Linked DNA regions of Homo sapiens. The protein of the gene in region 1 purifies or fractionates together with the protein of each later gene. This does not show direct contact. Each region holds a gene or a part of one and is shown in the gene's direction. Other genes may lie near its edges. The genes, in order: DACT3, SLC38A2 and KCTD3.

Region 1 (4,281 bases):
GGTGAAACCCCGTCTCTACAAAAAATACAAAAATTAGCTGGGCGTGGTGGCGCGTGCCTGTAATCCCAGCTACTCAGGAGGCTGAGGCAGGAGAATCGCTTGAACCTGGGTGGCAGAGATTGCAGTGAGCTGAGATCATGCCACTGCACTCCAGCCTGGGTGACAGAGCGAGACTTCGTCTAAAAAATAAATAAATAAATAAATAAATAAATAAATAGATAAATAAATAAACCAGGATAAATAAGTAAAATATCTAGGGTACGAAATAATGCCATGTGCTATGACAAGAAATAAGCCGGGGAAAGGGACTCAGAAGTGTCCCTTTGAGTTTGGGGAGGGAAGTGCAATTTTAGAAAATATGGCTGGGGAGGGCTTCACTGAGACTGTAACATTTGAGTTGTGCCCTGAACTAAGTGGGGGAGTGGACCTAGCAGATATCCAGAAGGAAGAGCATTCCGGGCATCTGGAATCTGGAATGGGAAGCAGAAAGGCTCTGAGGCCAGAATGTGACTGGCGCCTGCTTTCAGGAGGCCAGTGTGGCTGGAGTCCTATAAGTAGAGGAGAAGGGTCAGCTCAGTGGTTCATGCCTGTAATCCCAGCACTTTAGGAGGCTGAGGCGGGAGGATTATTTGAGCCTGGGAGCTGGAGACTAGACTGGGCAACACAGTGAGACCCCATCCCTACAAAAAATAAAAAAATCAGCAGGGCATGGTGATGCGTTCCTGTAGTCCCAGCCGTTCAGGAAGATAAGGCGAGAGGATCCCTTGAGCCCAGGAGCTGGAAACTGCAGTGAGCTATGATTGCGCCACTGCACTCCAGCCTGGGTGACAGAGCAAGCAAGAACCTGTCTTAAAAAAAAAAGGCCAGGCGCAGTGGCTCACACCTGTAATCCCAGCACTTTGGGAGGCCGAGGCGGGAGGATCACGAGGTCAGGAGATCGAGACCATCCTGGCGAACACGGTGAAACCCCGTCTCTACTAAAAATACAAAAAAATTAGCCGGGCGTGGTGGCGGGCGCCTGTAGTCCCAGCCACTCAGGAGGAGAATGGCATGAACCCGGGAGGCGGAGCTTGCAGTGAGCCGAGATCGGGCTACTGCACTCCAGCCTGGGCGACAGAACGAGACTCCGTCTCAAAAAAAAAAAAAAAAAAAAAATAGGGGGTAAGATGTTGTGAGAGTTGGAGAGGCAGAGGCAGAGGCAGGACAAGTCACGCAGGGTCTTGTAGGACCCTGTAAAGATTTTATTATGAATTTTACAAGAAGGAAGGTGTGAGAGCAGGGTTTTTGCTGCGATGAGGATGGAAGGGAGGGAGGCAACCCGCCCCTTCCGGGCTGGATGAGAAATGGGAAAGGACTTTGAGAGCCCCTCCACTCTCTCTTTTTTTTTTTTTTTTGGCCTTCCTTCCCTAGGAGACGCCAGTCCCAGCGCTCCGGAGGTGGTGGGCGCGCGGGCAGCGGTGCCGCGGTCCTTCTCAGCGCCCTACCCGACGGCAGGGGGGTCCGCCGGCCCGGAGGCCTGCTCCTCGGCGGAGCGGCGGGCCCGCGCCGGGCCCTTTCTGACGCCCAGCCCCCTGCACGCCGTGGCGATGCGCAGCCCGCGGCCCTGCGGCCGCCCTCCCACCGACTCGCCCGACGCGGGGGGCGCAGGGCGGCCCCTGGACGGCTACATCTCGGCGCTCCTGCGCAGGCGCCGCCGCCGGGGGGCGGGCCAGCCCCGGACCAGTCCCGGGGGCGCGGACGGCGGCCCGCGGCGCCAGAACAGCGTGCGCCAGCGGCCGCCCGACGCGTCTCCGTCCCCCGGCAGCGCGCGACCCGCGCGGGAGCCCTCGTTGGAGCGCGTCGGGGGCCACCCCACCAGCCCTGCCGCCTTGAGCCGCGCCTGGGCGTCGTCGTGGGAGTCGGAGGCGGCACCCGAGCCCGCTGCGCCGCCCGCCGCCCCCTCACCCCCCGACAGCCCGGCTGAGGGCCGCTTGGTGAAGGCGCAGTACATCCCGGGCGCGCAGGCGGCCACCCGAGGCCTCCCTGGCCGCGCCGCCCGCCGCAAACCGCCGCCACTGACCCGCGGCCGCAGCGTGGAGCAGTCACCACCCCGGGAGCGTCCCCGGGCCGCCGGCCGCCGTGGACGCATGGCCGAGGCTTCGGGCCGCCGCGGCTCGCCCAGGGCCCGCAAGGCCTCGCGCTCCCAGTCTGAGACCAGCCTGCTGGGCCGCGCCTCCGCGGTCCCTTCGGGGCCCCCTAAGTACCCCACGGCGGAGCGGGAAGAGCCTCGGCCTCCACGGCCACGCCGCGGCCCAGCGCCCACGCTGGCGGCCCAGGCCGCAGGGTCCTGCCGTCGCTGGCGCTCCACTGCGGAGATCGACGCTGCCGATGGGCGCCGCGTGCGGCCCCGAGCCCCTGCGGCGCGTGTTCCCGGCCCCGGCCCGTCCCCGTCAGCTCCCCAGCGTCGTCTGCTTTACGGCTGCGCGGGCAGCGACTCCGAGTGCTCGGCTGGGCGCCTGGGGCCCCTGGGACGCCGGGGGCCTGCGGGAGGCGTCGGCGGGGGTTACGGGGAGAGCGAATCGAGCGCCAGCGAGGGAGAATCGCCTGCCTTCAGCTCTGCCTCCAGCGACTCAGACGGCAGCGGTGGCCTCGTGTGGCCGCAGCAGCTGGTGGCGGCCACCGCGGCCTCTGGGGGTGGAGCAGGTGCAGGGGCGCCCGCAGGCCCCGCCAAAGTCTTCGTGAAAATCAAAGCTTCCCACGCGCTCAAGAAAAAGATACTGCGTTTCCGTTCGGGTTCTCTCAAGGTCATGACTACAGTGTGAGTTTGGGGATTTGCTTGGGCTCCCCCTTCATGGCCTCTGCACCTCCACACTCCCAACCACTGACCCTTCCACATCTACCTTCCAAAGACCATCGTTTTCTCTGCTTCCAAAGACCCCCCTCACTCTCCCCACTCCTAACAGTCTTGGTTGAAAAGGCTCCCCCACCACCACCGAGAGGAATGGGGAGGAGCCCTGTTTGACCCAGTTCAGCTTCTAGCTTGGAAGCCCTTGGGCAAGACAGTTCCCCTTCTCTGGGCGTCACTTTCCTCATCTGTACAGTAAGTGTCCATGTATGCAAAAGGGGTAATTCGGTTTGAATTTCCCCGTTTTAGTTTAGAAGCCTAGTCTGTTTGTTCCCCTCCACCGCTCTCCCTCTCATTCCTGATGAGCCCTCTCATTCCTCCTTTCCTTGCCCAGCTATGGCCCCCTCTCATTCACAAAGTGCCCCCTCCATGTCCCTGGACCCTTAAGATATCCCCTTGGCACCCTGGTCAGAGACTCTGTGTCTGACTCAGGTGGTCCCTGCAGAGTGCCCTGGGAAGGGAAGGAGCACTGATTTGGGGGTTTTGAGGGTCAAGTAGGGGTTGGTAACACCTGGAAAGAAGGACTCTTTCACTTCGATCCCTGGACAATTATGGAGGATTCGGAGGTAGAAGAGGGGAAGGAAGATGGTTTCTATCTCATGACCCCCACTCCCTGTGAGAGGGAATGGGGGAAGCCTGATGACCCTCAGCTGTTCCAATCTAGTATTTTTTTTCTTTTTTAAAATTACTGTATTTATTATGACGATGGTGACTCCCCAGTGCAAAGGGGGGCCAGATTCTGTGTGTTTCTCTAACCTCTTTGTAAATAAATGCACAGTGTAACATATGTGGTGGACTCTCACTGAATGATTAAATGGGAGAAATGCTCTTTTTCCTTTGGACTAACATTTATTGAGCAACTTCTGTTTGCTGTGGATATGGCAGTTTCCAGGGAGGTCCCAGGGTGAATCTCAACATCATCTTCCTACCATTGGCTATTTTACATCAAGGAATCTAACCTTTGATTGGGTTATGTTTGGTTATAAATACGATTTCAGGCGGGATGTGATGGCTCATGCCTATAATCCCAGCACTTTGGGAGGCAGGGGTAGGGGGATATCTTGAGCCCAGGAGTTCAAGACCAGCTTGGGCAACATGGTAAAACCCCATCTCTACAGAAAATACAAAAATTAGCTGGGTGTGGTAGGTCATTCCTGAACTATCAGCTGCTCAGGAGGCTGAGGTGGGAGAATCATGTGAGTCTGGGAGGCCCAGGCTGCAGTGAGCCATGATTGTGTCACTGCACGCCAGCGTGGATGACAAGCAAGACCCTGTCTCAAAAAACAAAAAAATATGGTTTCACAAAAATGGGAACAGCATGGGAAACAGACAGCCCCTAAATCCCCTCTCTGACGGTCATCATAATCAGCAGTTCGATGTGCATCCTCCCATGTTTA
Region 2 (3,649 bases), on another chromosome or scaffold:
CTACAAGTGGAAAATCCACACCTGATCTCGTGACAGGTGTGCAAAATTAATTAAAATACTGTATAAAATCACCTTTAGGCTATGGGTTTAAGAAGGTGTATAGGAAACATAAGTGAATTTTGTGTTTAGACTTCAGTGCCATCTCCAAGATACTTCAAATATGTATGTGCAGGTACTCCAAAGTCCAAAACACTTCGGTCCCAAGCATTTTGAATAAGGGATACTCAACATGTGCCAGAAAATGTTTGGGCATGCTATAGAAACCATTTTCTTCTAGCAAAGTTACTCATCCCAGTGAACTCACAGGTATTTATCTAAAGTAAACATGGGGAAGGATAATTTACTTCCCACCCTATGTGCAGCTCATTACGTCAAAATAGAGAAGTGCTGTTATCTCAGATGTGGCTTTAGAAATTTAATTTTTTAAGCTGATCTTTAAGTGTTGGTGTTCTGCAGAGTGCTTACTGCTGAAGTGAACAGAATTCATGAGGCAATTAGAATTTGAAAATAGTGATTTAGAAGACAGTGCAATTCATGATTTACCTAAAAAGAAAAAGGCTTAGAGGATATACATAATGTTTTCTAAAGTTCAAAAGGGATATTTTTGGCTGTCTTTGGAGTTAAAGGTGGGTCAAGATGTCACAACATACTCTGATAACCTGGAATAAGTCCTGGTTTGGGGGACTGAGTTTTATAATTTTTTTTATGGGGGGGGCAGTTTGCCTGTGCATTTTATGAAAACGTTTCCTCATTGAAATATTTAATAATATTTGCTAACGCATCTGGAAAAAAACTTGTTTTAAAATTTTTTAGTTTCCAGCATTAGAAATTACATGCTAAAGCTGTACCAAAGTTGGTGTACAATTTTTCTGAAAGTGCTTAAAGATAAGATTACTGGCTTAACAAACAAGCTTTGTTCCCTGCATTAGTATCAAGTCTTTGAGAAGCATTTTGTGTTATGAATCAGCTGGCAGCCTTCCCAGAGCAAGTAGTGGGACAAAAGTTACACTGTTTTATACCCGACTTCTAACCTGAGTAAATGTTCATCTAGCACACAAAATTAAAAAGTTATTCCTATCTTGAACAGGGGAAACTTTTTCCAAACATGTCTTTTTTGTGTGTTTGTTTTCATGGTATTCCTATGAAATGAGTCCTGTTAGAAGATGTGTATATTTTTCAGAGGATATTTGTGACTGTTTTGACCTTGTTTCTGTTTTCTTTAGATTGTGGTATCTGAACGGGAACTATTTGGTTCTGTTGGTGTCATTGGTGGTCATTCTTCCTTTGTCGCTGTTTAGAAATTTAGGTGAGCAAACTCATCTCTAAAGAGAATTGAAATGAGCCTCTCACCAGTTAGTTGGGCTTTCTCTGAATAGAAATTAATCAGAATGAAAAAGCCCTAGAAAGTAGAAAGGTATATCTTTGGGACTTACAGCATGCAAAATTTAGGAGCCAAAATATTTAATTGACACTATATGTTGTGCTTTGTAAGAAATAATGCAAATGATAGTTTTTATTAGCTTGGGTTATGACAAGTATATTTAAATAAATCTATAATTTAGTATCATAAGAATTAGAAATTTAGTGCTATACACATACTTTAGTGCCTAAAGTCTTCCCAGCAGAATTGAGTTATTCAGTGGGAAAAAGATATTTGCCTTAAATCTGTTTCATTAAACTAATACTGATTCCTGCCACCCCTCCTTATAGGATATTTGGGATATACCAGTGGCCTTTCCTTGTTGTGTATGGTGTTCTTTCTGATTGTGGTGGGTATGATTTTTTTTTTAGAAAAAATTTTTTATAAGCCCTGCCATGTCACTTAGTTTAACACATGCAAAATAATATATTTTTAGGTCATTTGCAAGAAATTTCAGGTTCCGTGTCCTGTGGAAGCTGCTTTGATAATTAACGAAACAATAAACACCACCTTAACACAGCCAACAGCTCTTGTACCTGCTTTGTCACATAACGTGACTGAAAATGACTCTTGCAGACCTCACTATTTTATTTTCAACTCACAGGTAACTAAATATGCTTATTTTCTCAAAAGAAGAGTTTAGGGAAGAAAAGAGGGAAGCTATTCACTCCCAGGGTAAAGGGAGGAGGATAATAGGTGCTTTATAGAAAACATGTGATTAGCTAATTATTGAGGACTGTGAAGAAAGTTTTGGTTTACATCTGAAAATAGATTGAGAATTGAGATAATCATATGGTGCTAATAATTGACACATTCAGAAGTGAGGATATTGATCATACTTCATGAACAGATTAGAAGAATGGAAGCTAATTACACAAAGGAAACTTAGGCTTTGATTCTAAGATTGTTTACATAAAATATATGCTGCGGAAATGTGACAGCATGAGTTCGTTACATCAGATTAAGTAGATTTTTACGTTTTCTTTCAGACTGTCTATGCTGTGCCAATTCTGATCTTTTCATTTGTCTGTCATCCTGCTGTTCTTCCCATCTATGAAGAACTGAAAGAGTGAGTATTTCATTTTTACATAAATTTGAGAAAATATTAGACAATTGCTGTAACTGCTGCTGAAATATATATTTGAATTTTCTCTTGAATTACATAGCCGCAGCCGTAGAAGAATGATGAATGTGTCCAAGATTTCATTTTTTGCTATGTTTCTCATGTATCTGCTTGCCGCCCTCTTTGGATACCTAACATTTTACGGTAAGTAACGCCTCCTTTACCAAAACAAAAACAAAAACAAAAAAAAACGCTTATTGAAATGAAGCTGCTAGTTTTCTATGTGTAGTTCCATCACTTTAAAAATAGTCTGTTTTAATATATTTCATATTTGTGATGAGAAATTAAATTTAGAGCTTAGAATTTTCTGTAGTGTATTTAATCAGTAATTTCTAGAATCCAGGTTTGAAAATATCATTAATCATTTGATGGCATATTTGTATGATATGCCAGCCTCTGAGTTCATATTGCCTGTCTCCTCTCCCATCACCTTCAGACTATGTAACACAAACACAAATTGCAAGCCAAGCCAGGAGATTTAGCTGCTTAACTCCTGTTGTTTTTAATGGGAGTCATGTGGCTAAATCTCTGTGGTATTTAGAAAAATTTTCCTTCAATGTTACTTTAATTGCATTAACTATAATTCCAAACAAATCTTATTAGCCTCTTAGTTTATAGTCGTTTTGTGAGTAGCTAAATAACTGGTGCACATTTTGCTGTTAAATTTTCTACTTGGTGTCCAATGAAAACAGCCAATCAAAGTTTTTTTGGTCTTTCCCTGTAGAACATGTTGAGTCAGAATTGCTTCATACCTACTCTTCTATCTTGGGAACTGATATTCTTCTTCTCATTGTCCGTCTGGCTGTGTTAATGGCTGTGACCCTGACAGTACCAGTAGTTATTTTCCCAGTAAGTAATCACTTGCTCTGCTTTCAGTAGGAAGGAGTTTTTAGACATGTGAATATTGGTGAGATTTTCATCTTCTGGAAGAAGGGAAACACCAGTAGAACAATACTAAGTTGGTGGTGGTTTTGAAGGGGCTTTTTAAAAATACAGTGTATATTTTCAAAATACCCTGGGGACATTTTTTTCACCATAAGATATAAAATGATCTTTAAGTGTTCAGATGTTCAGGAAACAGCAGAGAAAGAGGCACAGTTTTATTT
Region 3 (3,649 bases), on another chromosome or scaffold:
AAGCTGAAAAATATCTAAAATGTCTTCTAAAGTTTACAGATATAGTTTAAAGAATCCCAGATGTATTTTTTTTTTAAAAATCTGAATTTATGAAAGGTTTGGCATGTCTGGTAAGTGCTGTTTATATCAGTAATCTCAGGTTTATATTTTCCTTGTAGTAATGATTAAGTGCAGACTTTTATGTTTTAAGAGTGTTTTGGCTGGGCACGGTGGGTCACGCCTGTAATCCCAGCACTTTGGGAGGCCGAGATGGGTGGAGTTCAAGATCAGCCCGACCAACATGGTGAAACCCCATCTCTACTGAAGATACAAAAATTAGCCAGGTGTGGTGATGCATGCCTGTAATCCCAGCTACTCGGGAGGCTGAGGCAGGAGAATCACTTGAACCCAGGAGGTGGGGGTTGCAGTGAGCTGATAGCTCACCATTGTACTCCAACCTGCGCAACAGAGCAAGACTCTGTCTCAATAAATAAATAAACAAATTTTTAAAAAAAGTGTTTTGTGGATTTGTAATTTTAATTATGAAATAGCATGGAAATTGTTTTTTGCATAATTTCTTTGGGGATGGTTTTGTATGAGGCAAGACTAATTTGGTAAAGTAATTTTTTTTTAGGAAGCATTGTTTTGAATTTATCATCTTATATATTTGAATTGAGGTGACTTGTAGACCCTTGTTTACATATTATGTACATATTTTTGTCAATAAGGAATTCCAGAAGAATTGTGAAATGATAAGTGATCCAAGTGTAACAGCATAACTTCCGTTTTGTTACTGTACACAATACTAAAGATTGCTCTTTTCCAGAACCACCACATTATTACGCAAAATTTAACTCACTGGGTAATAATTGTATGGAGGATGATGCTATTACATTTTCCAGTCTTTGCGTTTGCATTGATCACGATCTTTCTGTGCTTTCACCAAGTGTCTGACATTTCAGAGCAATATACTCATGTAAAGTGACGAAGGAAGACAATTGAGGACATATTTGGATTTCCTCACATATAGTTAAATCATTCAACACAATGGCAATAAAAAGATTTCAAAAGAAAGAAAAATATTTAAACTGTTTAAAAGTGTAATCTTTTTTACAAGTTATTTTTCCTCAAGTTTTTGTATCAGTAAGTTACAAAACCTTTAAAAAAAGAGTAGTACAGTGAAGACCTGTATGATGTTCTCCTAGCTTCACTAATTTTCTACATGGTTAGGTTTTATGTTTATGTCCCTTTTTCTTGCTGAGTTTATGACAGTGTTACTTCTATTAACGAAGAGTAGTTGTGTGAATTGCTGCCCCCTTGGGGCTTATATTCCACTTTAGATCTTTAATCCTTGTGGAGTTTACTTTTTTGTATGTGGTATGAGATTTAAGGATTTATTTTCTTCTCAGTGGGTAGGTAATTATGTTCTGACAATTTATTACGTAAATCATTCTTTGTCAGTGAATCTGATAGCCCATTTTATCTTGCTTTATGTGTGTGTATATACTTGGATCTGTTTTTCAGTTCTCTCATTTCCTTAAGACATATGTCTATTCTCATACAACTTGAGGTGAAGTATGTTCATAATAAGTTTCAAAATCTCACAGGGCATGTCCTCTCTACTGTATTTTATTGAGGTCTTCATGTAGGAAATAACTAGACGTAACTCTATTCTTCGCATAGCTGTCTTAACCAGAGGGTTGGTTCACTAGGCAGCAGTAAGATGATGGAGAGGTGAAATAACAGAGCATATTCTTGTTTTATATTTTGTTTTATTTATTATTATATATTTTTTGTTTTGTTTTGTTTTTGAGATTTTGAGACAGAGTCTTGCACTGTCACCCAGGCTAGAGTGCAGTGGCGTGATCTCGGGTCACTGCAACACCTGCCTCCTGGGTTCAAGCAATTCTCCCACCTCAGCCTCCTGAGTAGCTGGGACTACAGGTGTGCACCACCACACCTGGCCAATTTTTGTATTTTTAGTAGAGACGGGGTTTCACCATGTTGGCCAGACTGTTTTCAAACTCCTGATCTCAAGTGATTCACCCGCCTCAGCCTTCCAAAGTGCTGGGATTCCAGGCGTGAGCCACTGTGCCTGGCCTTGTTCTACATATTTTAAATGTATTACTTGTATGGAAAGTTATAGAGCAAATATGTACCTTCTTTGTAATTTTTTAAAAAACAGGTAAATTCACATATCTTATTAAGAGTTAAATTCTGTAGTTGTTATAGTTATTTTTAAATATGCTGTCCTGATTCTTTTATCCTTTTTTGACATCTCTTTATTGTGTAATACCCTAATTACTATAGAGAAAAACAACTTAGAAGTAATATGTCTGTAAAAGATGAGATTATATAGTTTTTTTTTTTAAGTGAATCCAAGTTTATTAAGAAAGTAAAGGAATAAAAGAATGGCTACTCCATAGCCAGAGCAGCCCTGAGGGCTGCTTGACTGAGTATACTTACAGTTATTTCTTGATTATATACTAAATAAGGGGTGGATTATTCATGAGTGTTTCAGAAAGGAGCAGGCAATTCCCAGAACTGAATGTTCCTCCCCTTTTTAGACCATATAGGGTAACTTCCAGACATTAGATGTCATTTGTAAACTATCATGGGGCTGGTGAGAGTGTCTTTTAGCATGATAATGCATTATAATTAGCGTATAATGAGCAGTGAGGACGACCAGAGGTCACTTTTGTTGCCATCTTGGTTTCAGTTTTGGCTGGCTTCTTTACTCCGTCCTGTTTTGTCAGCGGGATCTTTGTGACCTTTACCTTGTGCTGACCTTCCTTGTTACGCTGTGACTAAGAATGCCTAACCTCCTGGGAATGCAGCCCAGCAGGTCTCAGCCTTATTTTACTCAGTCCCCATTCAACTCTGGTTTGAACACCTCTGACATGTTTTCCCCTTCCCTTTTACAAGGGTACTCTTAATCCTAAGGGTTTCAGAGGGAGGAAGATTCATCTTCTGTAACTTCTGCAGTCTGAATAGGGATGATGGTATTTCTGCCTATTAGGGTCTTCTGCATTCAGAGTAGAGGAGAGCTCAGTTAGAAACTGTCAGTATGGTGAGAACTCTGATTTCTGACAAAAAGTGATGACTGAAAAATTAATAAGTGTTCGATTTAAGAAAGCACTGAGTAAGCTTATCTTGCATTCCTACACAAAGAGAACAACAGCAGTATATTCTACAATAACAAGGCAAAATAAGTAAAATTATCCCAAGTAAACTAAATAAGAAGGCTTTTCATGAACTGGGAAATTGTTGTAACCAAGCTGATATGGAGTTGGAACCAAGCTGATGTGCTAGCCAATTCCAATACATGCCCACAATTAGAATACTGATCCAGATTTCTGTGTTACCCATGCCTCTTGTTTCTTCTGAACAGCAGCCACAGATCACTGCTTGGTCCACAAGGATAAGCAGGATGAGTCCAAATTGCAGAAAGAACTCAAAAACTACTGATGAGACAAATCTAATAAAAAGCATACCATAGTTTTTGAAACAATTTTCCTATTTTCAGTCTTTCATTTTTACTAAAGAAATCATGGTAGGACTGATTTGTTTGCAAAATAAGCTTTAGTCTTATTATACTTGGCCTGATTATTTGTATAAAGTGCAGCAAGAATAATTAGTTCCTATATAGGCTCTTTTTAAATTGACTTTG

The links.
Region 2: the proteins of DACT3 (region 1) and SLC38A2 purify together in Homo sapiens (affinity purification with mass spectrometry; one large-scale study listed by BioGRID and IntAct). This does not show direct contact.
Region 3: the proteins of DACT3 (region 1) and KCTD3 purify together in Homo sapiens (affinity purification with mass spectrometry, with the first as the bait; one large-scale study listed by BioGRID). This does not show direct contact.

What each region holds. Positions count from the first base shown.
Region 1 is NC_000019.10:46,647,002-46,651,282, reverse strand, and holds the end of DACT3 (dapper homolog 3), read left to right. Parts: intron 1-1,410; coding exon 1,411-2,801; 3' UTR 2,802-3,732; downstream 3,733-4,281. UniProt on the Homo sapiens protein: May be involved in regulation of intracellular signaling pathways during development. Specifically thought to play a role in canonical and/or non-canonical Wnt signaling pathways through interaction with DSH (Dishevelled) family proteins.
Region 2 is NC_000012.12:46,362,764-46,366,412, reverse strand, and holds part of SLC38A2 (sodium-coupled neutral amino acid symporter 2), read left to right. Parts: intron 1-1,223; coding exon 1,224-1,306; intron 1,307-1,710; coding exon 1,711-1,769; intron 1,770-1,856; coding exon 1,857-2,024; intron 2,025-2,409; coding exon 2,410-2,489; intron 2,490-2,586; coding exon 2,587-2,687; intron 2,688-3,267; coding exon 3,268-3,392; intron 3,393-3,649. UniProt on the Homo sapiens protein: Symporter that cotransports neutral amino acids and sodium ions from the extracellular to the intracellular side of the cell membrane.
Region 3 is NC_000001.11:215,580,782-215,584,430, forward strand, and holds part of KCTD3 (BTB/POZ domain-containing protein KCTD3), read left to right. Parts: intron 1-3,649. UniProt on the Homo sapiens protein: Accessory subunit of potassium/sodium hyperpolarization-activated cyclic nucleotide-gated channel 3 (HCN3) up-regulating its cell-surface expression and current density without affecting its voltage dependence and kinetics.